2 linked regions of the Homo sapiens genome follow. The protein of the gene in region 2 purifies or fractionates together with the protein of the main gene of each other region. This does not show direct contact. Each region holds a gene or a part of one and is shown on either strand. Other genes may lie near its edges.

The links.
Region 1: the proteins of SESN2 (region 2) and SZT2 purify together in Homo sapiens (affinity purification with western blotting; one study listed by BioGRID and IntAct). This does not show direct contact.

Annotation. Positions count from the first base shown.
Region 1 is NC_000001.11:43,396,399-43,399,898, forward strand, and holds part of SZT2 (KICSTOR complex protein SZT2), read left to right. Parts: intron 1-3,500.
Region 2 is NC_000001.11:28,261,725-28,267,132, forward strand, and holds part of SESN2 (sestrin-2), read left to right. Parts: intron 1-5,408. UniProt on the Homo sapiens protein: Functions as an intracellular leucine sensor that negatively regulates the mTORC1 signaling pathway through the GATOR complex. In absence of leucine, binds the GATOR subcomplex GATOR2 and prevents mTORC1 signaling.

The sequences.
Region 1 (3,500 bases), about 15 Mb from region 2:
ATATTTTCAAGACAACAGATTTTAAGAGTAGGTCAAGATATTATCAAAAAGACAGATTCTGGCTCTATGTGAGGACATTCCCAACTCTACCAACTAAACAGGTATGGGCAAAAAAAACAAAGAAACAACACTGAAGTGAATGGCTGTGCAGGACTTCTGACTCAAAGAAGAGAGGTAAACAGCAACACTTTGTTATTACTAATCTGTGCATTTATACACGTTACTTTTTACAAGGTGCTTTCACACATCATTGGGCTAGCTGGTATTTTTACACAGGAGGAAGCTCACCCAGAGTCTTAGCTGTCAAATCACAACACTTTCTTTCTGTAACACTGTTCTTTCTAAAACAAAGCTAATGGAACATAAAGCAAATCTGTTAGAACCCCCATTTGCACTCCCCCAGGGTTCCAGGAACAATAAAGAAGAAGATACTAGTGAAAATGTGGTAAAAACGATGTTTGTGGAAGCAAAGGAAAAACTCCAAAAATAGAATAGCTTACCTTGTCCATAAATGATTGAAAGATGAAGTGAATAAAGGACAGGAACTCTTCGTCAACAAAAACCATGTTGATAGAAGAGTGAAAAATTAGAAATTATTGGTAACAAATTAAGAATAGCTGGAAACAGAATAAATACAGCTTGTGAGATTAGTTTTCCTTGTTCATACATGTATTCAACAGTTATTATTAGAACACTTAGTATGTCTTGGCACTGTGCTAGGCTCTAGGGTTACAGCAAGAAACAATGTATAGGCCAGGTGTGGTGGCTAACACCTGTAATCCCAGCACTTTGGGAGGCTGAGGCCAGTGGATCACCTGAGGTAGAAGTTCGAGACCAGGCTAACATGGCAAAACCCTGTCTCTACTGAAAATACAAAAATTAACTGGGTGTGGTGGCACGTGCTTATAGTCCCAGCTACTGAGGAGCCTGAGGCAAGAGAATCACTTGAACCAAGAGGCGGAGGTTGCAGTGAGCCAAGATGGCACTGCTGCACTCCAGCCTGGGTGACAGAGCGAGACTCCATTTCAAAAAAAAAAAAAGAAAAGAAACAATATGTAGACATGGCCTCCACCTCGCTGGATCTTCAGACTTATACAGGAAACAAACATTAAAGTATACAAATTCTTTTTTTTTTGAGATGGAGAGATGGATGGAGTCTTGCTCTGTTGCCCAGGCTGGAGTGCAGTGGTGCAATCTTGGCTCACTGCAGCCTCCACCTCCTGGGTTCAAGCGATTCTCCTGCCTCGGTCCCCTAAGTAGCTGGGACTACAGATGTGCTCCACTATGCCCGGCTAATTTTTGTATGTTTTGGTAGAGGTGGGGTTTCGCCACATTGGCCAGGCTGGTCTCGAGCTCCTGGCCTCAGGTCATCCACCCACCCCGGCCTCCCAAAGTGCTGGGATTACAGGTGTGAGCCACTACGCCCGGCCCCTACAAATTCTTAATTATAAACTCTGGCAGGTGTCATGAAGAAAAAATACAGAGTGCTGTGTGAATGCCCAACATAGGACCCTAACTTAGTGCAGACAGTCATGGAAAGGTTCATTTATTAAACCTAGATTTGCCGTGATTTTAGTCCTAGAAGATGAGGTGACCACGTGCCCAACTCTGTCCTTATAGTGCTGACCCACAACCATGTGCTCTTCCCCTTTTAACCCTGGCCTTACGTGGGCCAAAACGCTTTTCCTTGGTTTTTCCTTGCATAGCTGAAACAGGCTGGCATTTGAAAACAAAAAGTATTTAGTACCAAAGAACAAAAGGAAAGTAGTGTTGACACTAGTGTTAAGGTGATCTCATCTTGAGAAAAGTTGTACTAATTATGATTAGTTTTAAATGTCCAGTTTGCCGTGCTTAGAACATATAGCGAGAGGGGAAGAGGTGGTGGTGGGGAGAAAAAACCATAGCGAATTCACTTATTTAGAGAAATGTTATTGAACATCCTATGTGCCAGGCACTGCACTGGGCTCTGGAGACAGAGTGATAAACAAATGACTGCTGAATTAGGATAGCCTTCCTATTCTGATAATGCTCTGAGCCCCAAACCATCCCTTAACAAAAAAATTCTTTTTTAAAACTCCAGTAAGTCTCTTGTACATGCTTTTTTAGATAAGAACTTTGGCAGTATCCAGCATAGTCAACACATAATATCCCACCCACACTAGCTAAGTCAAACCTGAAGGAGAGGTTGCCTGGTTTAGTATCCCACCCTAAAACCAAGGATCAGAGAAAGAAAGGGTGAGTAATTGCTGTGATTTCCTTCTTTGCCAATAAATAGACCCCTTTTCTGTTTTTAGGAGCATGGCGATAAGAGTGTACAATTTGATGGGACTTTTCGATGGGGTGTGGTAGTCAGGAATAACTATCTACTTTTTGTAGCTAACTTAGAAATCATTTTGCAGTAGGTTGGGTGCGGTGGCTCACGCCTGTAATCCCAGCACTTTGGGAGGTGGAGGCGGGCAGATCACAAGGTCAGGAGTTCGAGACCAGCCTGGCCAATATGGTGAACCACCATCTCTATTAAAAATACAAAAAATAGCCAGGCATGGTGGCATGCCCCTGTAGTCCCAGCTACTCAGGAGGCTGAGGTGGGAGAATCGCTTGAACTGAGAAGGCGGAAGTTGCAGTGAGCCGAGATTGCGCCACTACACTCCAGCCTAGGCGACAGAGCGAGACTCCGTCTCAAAAAAAAAAAAGAAAAAAATCATTTTGCAGCGTATTGGTTTCCAATGCTACTTTAATCATCCTTGATACCTTCCTTTTTGTTACTTTCCTCCTATGTCCTGACTTATAATTAATCACCAGTTCTTTTCTGTCCTATCCTAAAGATCCCTTGAAATACAACTAAGTTCACTGTTTAGTTCAGCTGACTTTTTGTTTTCCATAATAAGACTTTCACCGTGAAAGATAGTGGTGGTTTTGCATCCTGGCATTATCTCATCAAGACCCAGTCTCACACAGTTCACAGAATGGCTACTTTGAGTAGCTCTAGTCTAAGCCACTGTCATCTCCCCTAGTTGTTAGTCTGCGGTGGGAGGGTGCTTTCTAAATCACACAGTAGCCAGAGGGAATTTTTTTTTTTTTTTTTTTTTTGAGACGGAGTCTCGCTAGGCTGGAGTGCAGTGGCGTGATCTCGACTCACTGCAAGCTCCGCCTCCCGGGTTCACGCCATTCTCCTGCGTCAGCCTCCTGAGTAGCTGGGACTACAGGCACCCGCCACCACACCCAGCTAATTTTTTGTATTTTTAGTAGAGACGGGGTTTCGCTGTGTTAGCCAGGGTGGTCTCGATCTCCTGACCTCGTGAACCGCCTGCCTTGGCCTCCCAAAGTGCTGGGATTACAGACGTGAGCCATGGTGCCCGGCCACCAGAGGGAATTTTTTTTAATGCAGATATAATGTTACTGTCTTGTGGAATTCCTTTAGTAGCTTAAACTCACTCAAAGGATGAATCCAAAATCCTAGCCAGGACCTGTCTCAACACAGTGTTGGAAAGCAGTGTAAC
Region 2 (5,408 bases):
CATGTTTCCTCAGTGGAGAAAACTGCTGCTATCTGGGAGGTTTCTTTTTCTTATCTTTTTTTTTTTTTTTTTTTGAGATGGAGTCTTGCTCTGTTGCCCAGGCTGGAGTGCAGTGGCACGATCTCAGCTCACTGCAACCTCCATCTCCCAGGTTCAAGCAATTCTCCTGCCTCAGCCTCCCTAGTAGTTGGGATTACAGGCACCCGCCACCATGCCCAGCTAATTTTTGTATTTTCAGTAGAAACAGAGTTTCAGCATGTTGGCCAGGCTGATCTTGAACTCCTAACCTCAGGTGATCCACCTGCCTTGGCCTCCCAAAGTGCTGAGATTACCGGCATGAGCCACCGCACCTGGCCTATCTGGGAGATTTCTGTGTATTCCTCTCTCGAGAAAAGAGGACCTTCGGACGGTTTCTGCTTTGAGTGGTGGCATCCTTAGAAGACAGCAGGGTGCTGATCTTTGAGTCAGGTGCCCGAGGTCCAAGAGAAGACCCAGGCGTGCAGCTCCCTTAACTCCCTGTCACTTCACCACACACTCCCTTTCAGGAGCTCATTGCCTTCAGATGTGTGTATCTTCAGAAAGTTCCAAGGGCTTCACTCTAGTACTGGTAGTATTGGGCTCCCGAATAACTTTCTCGGCCAGATGCAGTGGCTCATGCCTGTAATACTAACACTTTGGGAGGCCGAGGCAGATGGATTGCTTGAGCCCAGGAGTTCAAAACCAGCCTGAAACCCTGTCTCTACAAAATATACAAAAGTTAGCCAGGCGTGGTGGTGTGCGCCAGCTACTTCGAAGGCTGAGGTGGGAGGATTGCTTGAGCCTGGGAGGCGGAGGTTGCAGTGAACTGTGATCATGCCACTGCACTCCAGCCTGGGTGACAGAGCAAGAGTCTGTCTCAAAAAAAAAAAAAAAAAAAAAACCAGGCTGGGCGCGGTGGCTCGCACCTGTAATCCAAGCACTTTGGGAGGCCGAGGTAGGTGGATCACAAGGTCAGGAGATTGAGACCATTCTGGCTAATACGGTGAAACCCCGTCTCTACTAAAAATACAAAAAATTAACCCTGCGTGGTGGCACACGCCTGTACTCCCAGCTACTCCGGAGGCTGAGGTAGGAGAATTGCTTGAACCTGGGAGGCAGAGGTTGCAGTGAGCCGAGATCGCTTCACTGTACTCCAGCCTGGGTGACAGAGTGAGACTCCGTCTCAAAAAAAACAAAACAAAACAAACTTTCTCAGACATCATTTCTTCTTCAGGGAAGCCCTTCCTCCCCCACTAGATAAGTCCCCTTGCACACCCTCCTCCATTCCCTCCATTGTAGGAGCTTTGGTCCCAATTATGTGAAATAGTCCCTTGCTGGAGATACCCTGCAAGTCTCATCCCCAGCACTGCTCTTTGCACCTAATAAGTGTTCGTGACTAGTTGCCCCTTGCTGGCTTAGCTGACCCTTGTGAACTATTCCAGCCGTGGAGTCAGATCTGAATTGTGCCCATTTGGAAGAGGACCTTTCTGAGCCTCTCTGACCTGTTTCCGAAGAAGGGATTATAAGAACTGTTTCCCTCTGGGTGGTTGGGAGGAATTGGCACAATCAGATGTGTAAAGCACTTAGCGTGGTTCCCAGCTCATGATGGGCAGACAAGTGTATGGCACCACTCACTCACACCCCCTCCACCCTGCCCACTCCAAGGCTGGAGGTCCTGGGCTGCTTGGGCTGTATTTCCGTATCGTCTTCTCAGGCATAAACCCAGGAAAATATCTGAATTCAGCTGGGGGTGAGGGAAGGAGAAATAGTGTCTGTTCCTTCCCAGCTGGCAGAGTGGGTAACCAGGTGTCTGTAGCTGAGACCAGGGACTTACAGGCTCTATAAAGGATAATATAGGGTAACCGAGAATAAAGTCTGGGGCTTCTCCAAGAAGCCGATATGGGTAGTAGACAGAACCCTTGGAAGCCAGACTGAGCTGGGTTCAACTCTCCAAGGCTGGGGCTGCTTCCCAAAGCTGTTATTATGAAGTGGAATGGACCTTAGAAGCCAGGCAGCCGTGGGTTCAGATCTCAGATTGGCTACTTGTCAGCTGGTGCCTAACCTTTGAACCCTTAGTCTTGTGTGCAAAATAGAGACTCTGCCGCCGCCCCAAAACAGATGAAAATTAGATGGAACCTGTGTGCAAGTACCTGAGCTAATTTAAAAGTTAACATATAGTAAGTGCTTAAATTAGGATCCATGCCAGGCATGGTGGCTCATGCCTGTAATCCCAGCACTTTGGGAGGCTGAAGTGGGAAGATCGCTTGAGCCCAGGAGTTTGAGACCAGCCTTGGCAACACAGTGAGACCTCATCTCTATTTAAAAAAAAAAAAAAAAAAGGCCAGGCACGGTGGCTCAAACGCCCATAATCCCAGCATATTGGGAGGCCAAGGTGAGCAGGTTATGTCTCTACTAAAAATACAAAAATTAGCCGGGCTTGGTGGCGCATGCCTATACTCCCAGCTACTTAGGAGGCTGAGGCAGGAGAATTGCCTGAACTCAGGAGGCGGAGGTTGCAGTGAGCCAAGATCACGCAACTGCACTCCAGCCTGGGTGACAGAGCGAGACTCCATCTCAAAGAAAAAAAGAAAAAAAAAGAAAAAATTAGGAGCCAGGCACAGGTCTGGGGCCATTATCCTCTTTTTACAGTTTGTGTGAAGACCTTCATGTTGAATGACCACCTAAAGGGTTAACTTTAGTGTTCCTGTTGCCCCATGTGATCTGTTTAGTTGAAATTATAAAAATACCCAACACTGGTTCTCCCTCTGTCCCACACTAGCTGTTATTTTGGACAGGTGACCTGACCCCTCTGTGTTGCACTTTTCTTGTTCTGTTACGTGGAACTGGAATCATGCCTTTATCAGGTCTACTGAACCTGTACCATCCAATATGGTAACCCCTCACTACATGTGGCTATTTAAATTTAGATAAATTAAAATTAAATAAAATGAAAATTTTTTGTTGCATTTGTCACATTTCAAATGCTCAGCCACAGTGACTAGAGACTCACATTTCTTGGACAGTACAGATATAAAACATTCCATCATCGCAGAAAATTCTGTTGGACTGTGCTATGCTAGGCACTGGGGTAACAACAAAGAACTAGATTCAGTGTGTGCCCCCAAGTGTGACAGGTGCTGTGACTGGAGCTTCTCATTCTTGGTGAGTCCCAGATGCAGCAGCCTGGAGACTATTGAGACCTTGAGAAGTTTAGAGAATGGGGAATCATTTCTGCACTTGCAGAAACCTGGGTTGTATCCCAGCCCTGCTACTGCCTTCCTGCCTGAGTAGCCAGAAGTGAGTTGACCTCTCTGAGCCTTGTTCCTCATCTGTAAAATGGAAGCCCTAGTAGTAGCTTCTGCCCTAAAGTCCAGGTAGTGCATGTGAAATTAATGCTTAGCCAGTGGTAACCAGCCTTGTTATGCACCATTGTTATTACTGACTCCCCAGTCCAGGGAATTGGGCAGGGAGGGCTGACTTGGAGGGGTCATTTCTTGGCAGTGGTATGCTGCCCTGCCTGCTTCCTCTGTCAGGATCGGGGAAGCATTCAGGGTATTGGAGCCATGGATTCAAATCTACTTGGTTTTGCCTTCAGGGCTTTATACTCGCGTTCCCTCTGGCTGGAATGCTGGTCCCCCTAGTTTTTGGGGTGTGTGTTTGTTTGTTTTGAGACGGAGTTTCACTCTTGTTGCCCAGGCTGGAGTGCAATGGTGCGATCTCAGCTCACCACAACCTCCACCTCCTGGGTTCAAGCAATTCTCCTGCCTCAGCCCCCCGAGTAGCTGGGACTACAGGCATGCACCACCATGCCTGGCTAATTTTTTGTATTTTTAGTAGAGACGGGGTTTCTCCATGTTGGTCAGGCTGGTCTCGAACTCCCAACCTCTGGTGATCCGCCTGCCTCGGCCTCTCAAAGTGCTGGGATTTCAGGCGTGAGCCACTGCGCCCGGCCTGTTTGTTTTTTAAGAGAGGGTGTCCTGCTGTGTTGTCCAGACTGTTCTCAAATTCCTAGCCTCAGGTGATCCTCCACCACCAAGCCTTCCAAAGTACCGGGGTTACAGGTGTGAACCACCCCACTTAGGCCCCCTAGATCTTTACAGGCCTTGCTGTCTTCTCATCATTTAGATAACAGCTCAAAGACCACCTCCTCAATGGCTTCTCCTGTCTACTTACACTAAAATATTGCACACTCTCCCTCCCCATCATACAGTTACTGTTTATTTCACTCACTTTATAGAATCTGTGCTTTGAAATCCTGTTTATCAGATTCTGAATTATATGAAGGCCAAGGGCTTTGTCTTTTCACTGCTGTATTCTTGCTGCTTGCAATATAGCCATCAAAAATATTTGTTGAGTGAACAAATTAATTCTGTTTCCACCTAGAAAGCACTTAGCATAGTGCCTTATACTTGAGAAAGTGATCAATAAATGGTGTAAACAATGGTCCTCACCCTGGCTGTTATGCTGGGGCCCCACCCCAGATAACTAAATTAGAATTGCGGGAGGTGGGACCTTGGCATTGTTATTTTTGTAAAGCTTCTCAAAGGATTCTAATGTACCGCTTGGGTTGAGAAGCCCTTGTTTGATACAGCAAGGAGGTTAATGATACCTGACTTTTTATTAAGTGCTTATTGTTATGGAGGTATTGAGGTAAGCTACACAGTGTTATCTCATGAAATCCTCATCACTGGCCAGTGGAAGTAGTTACTGCTATCCCCATTATTTGGTAAAGAAACTGAGGCTCATAAAGCTAAGGGATAGCAGGTGGTGGAGCTGTCATTTGAGCTCATGCAATTTGTGTCAAGAGCCCCATCTTTTTTTTTTTTTTTTTTTTTGAGACAGGGTCTTGCCCTGTTGCTCAGGCTGGAATGCCGTGGTGCGATCATAGCTTGCTGTAACCTCAAACTCCTGGGCTCAGGCAGTCCTCCTGCCTCAGCCTCCTGAGTAGCTGGGACTACAGGTTGTGTGCTACCATGCCCAGCTAATTTACTGTTTGTGGAGACAGGGGTCTCACTGTGTTGCCCAGGCTGGTCTCGAATTCCTGGCCTCAAGCGATCCTCTTGCCTCAGTGTCCCAACGTGCTGGGATGAGCTGCTGCGCCAGCCAAGGGCCCCTATCTTTTAACTGCATTGTATATTGTTGTTGTTGTTGTTATTGCTGAAAGTGTTGATGGATCCAGACCGATGACTTAGAGCTCCTTCTTTTGACAATTCCTGGGTCAGATTTTGGAGTGAGTTGGGATTCCCAAGGCTATTCCTATCCTTCCCTAGCACCCCTGATGGGCCGTCTCTGCCTCCCCCAGTTTTGCTCCACCCTACCCTGCTGTGGCTTGCTATTCTGTCCTCAGGTCCCCTGAGGTGGAGGCCCAGTTTGTGGAGTCAGCAATCCTT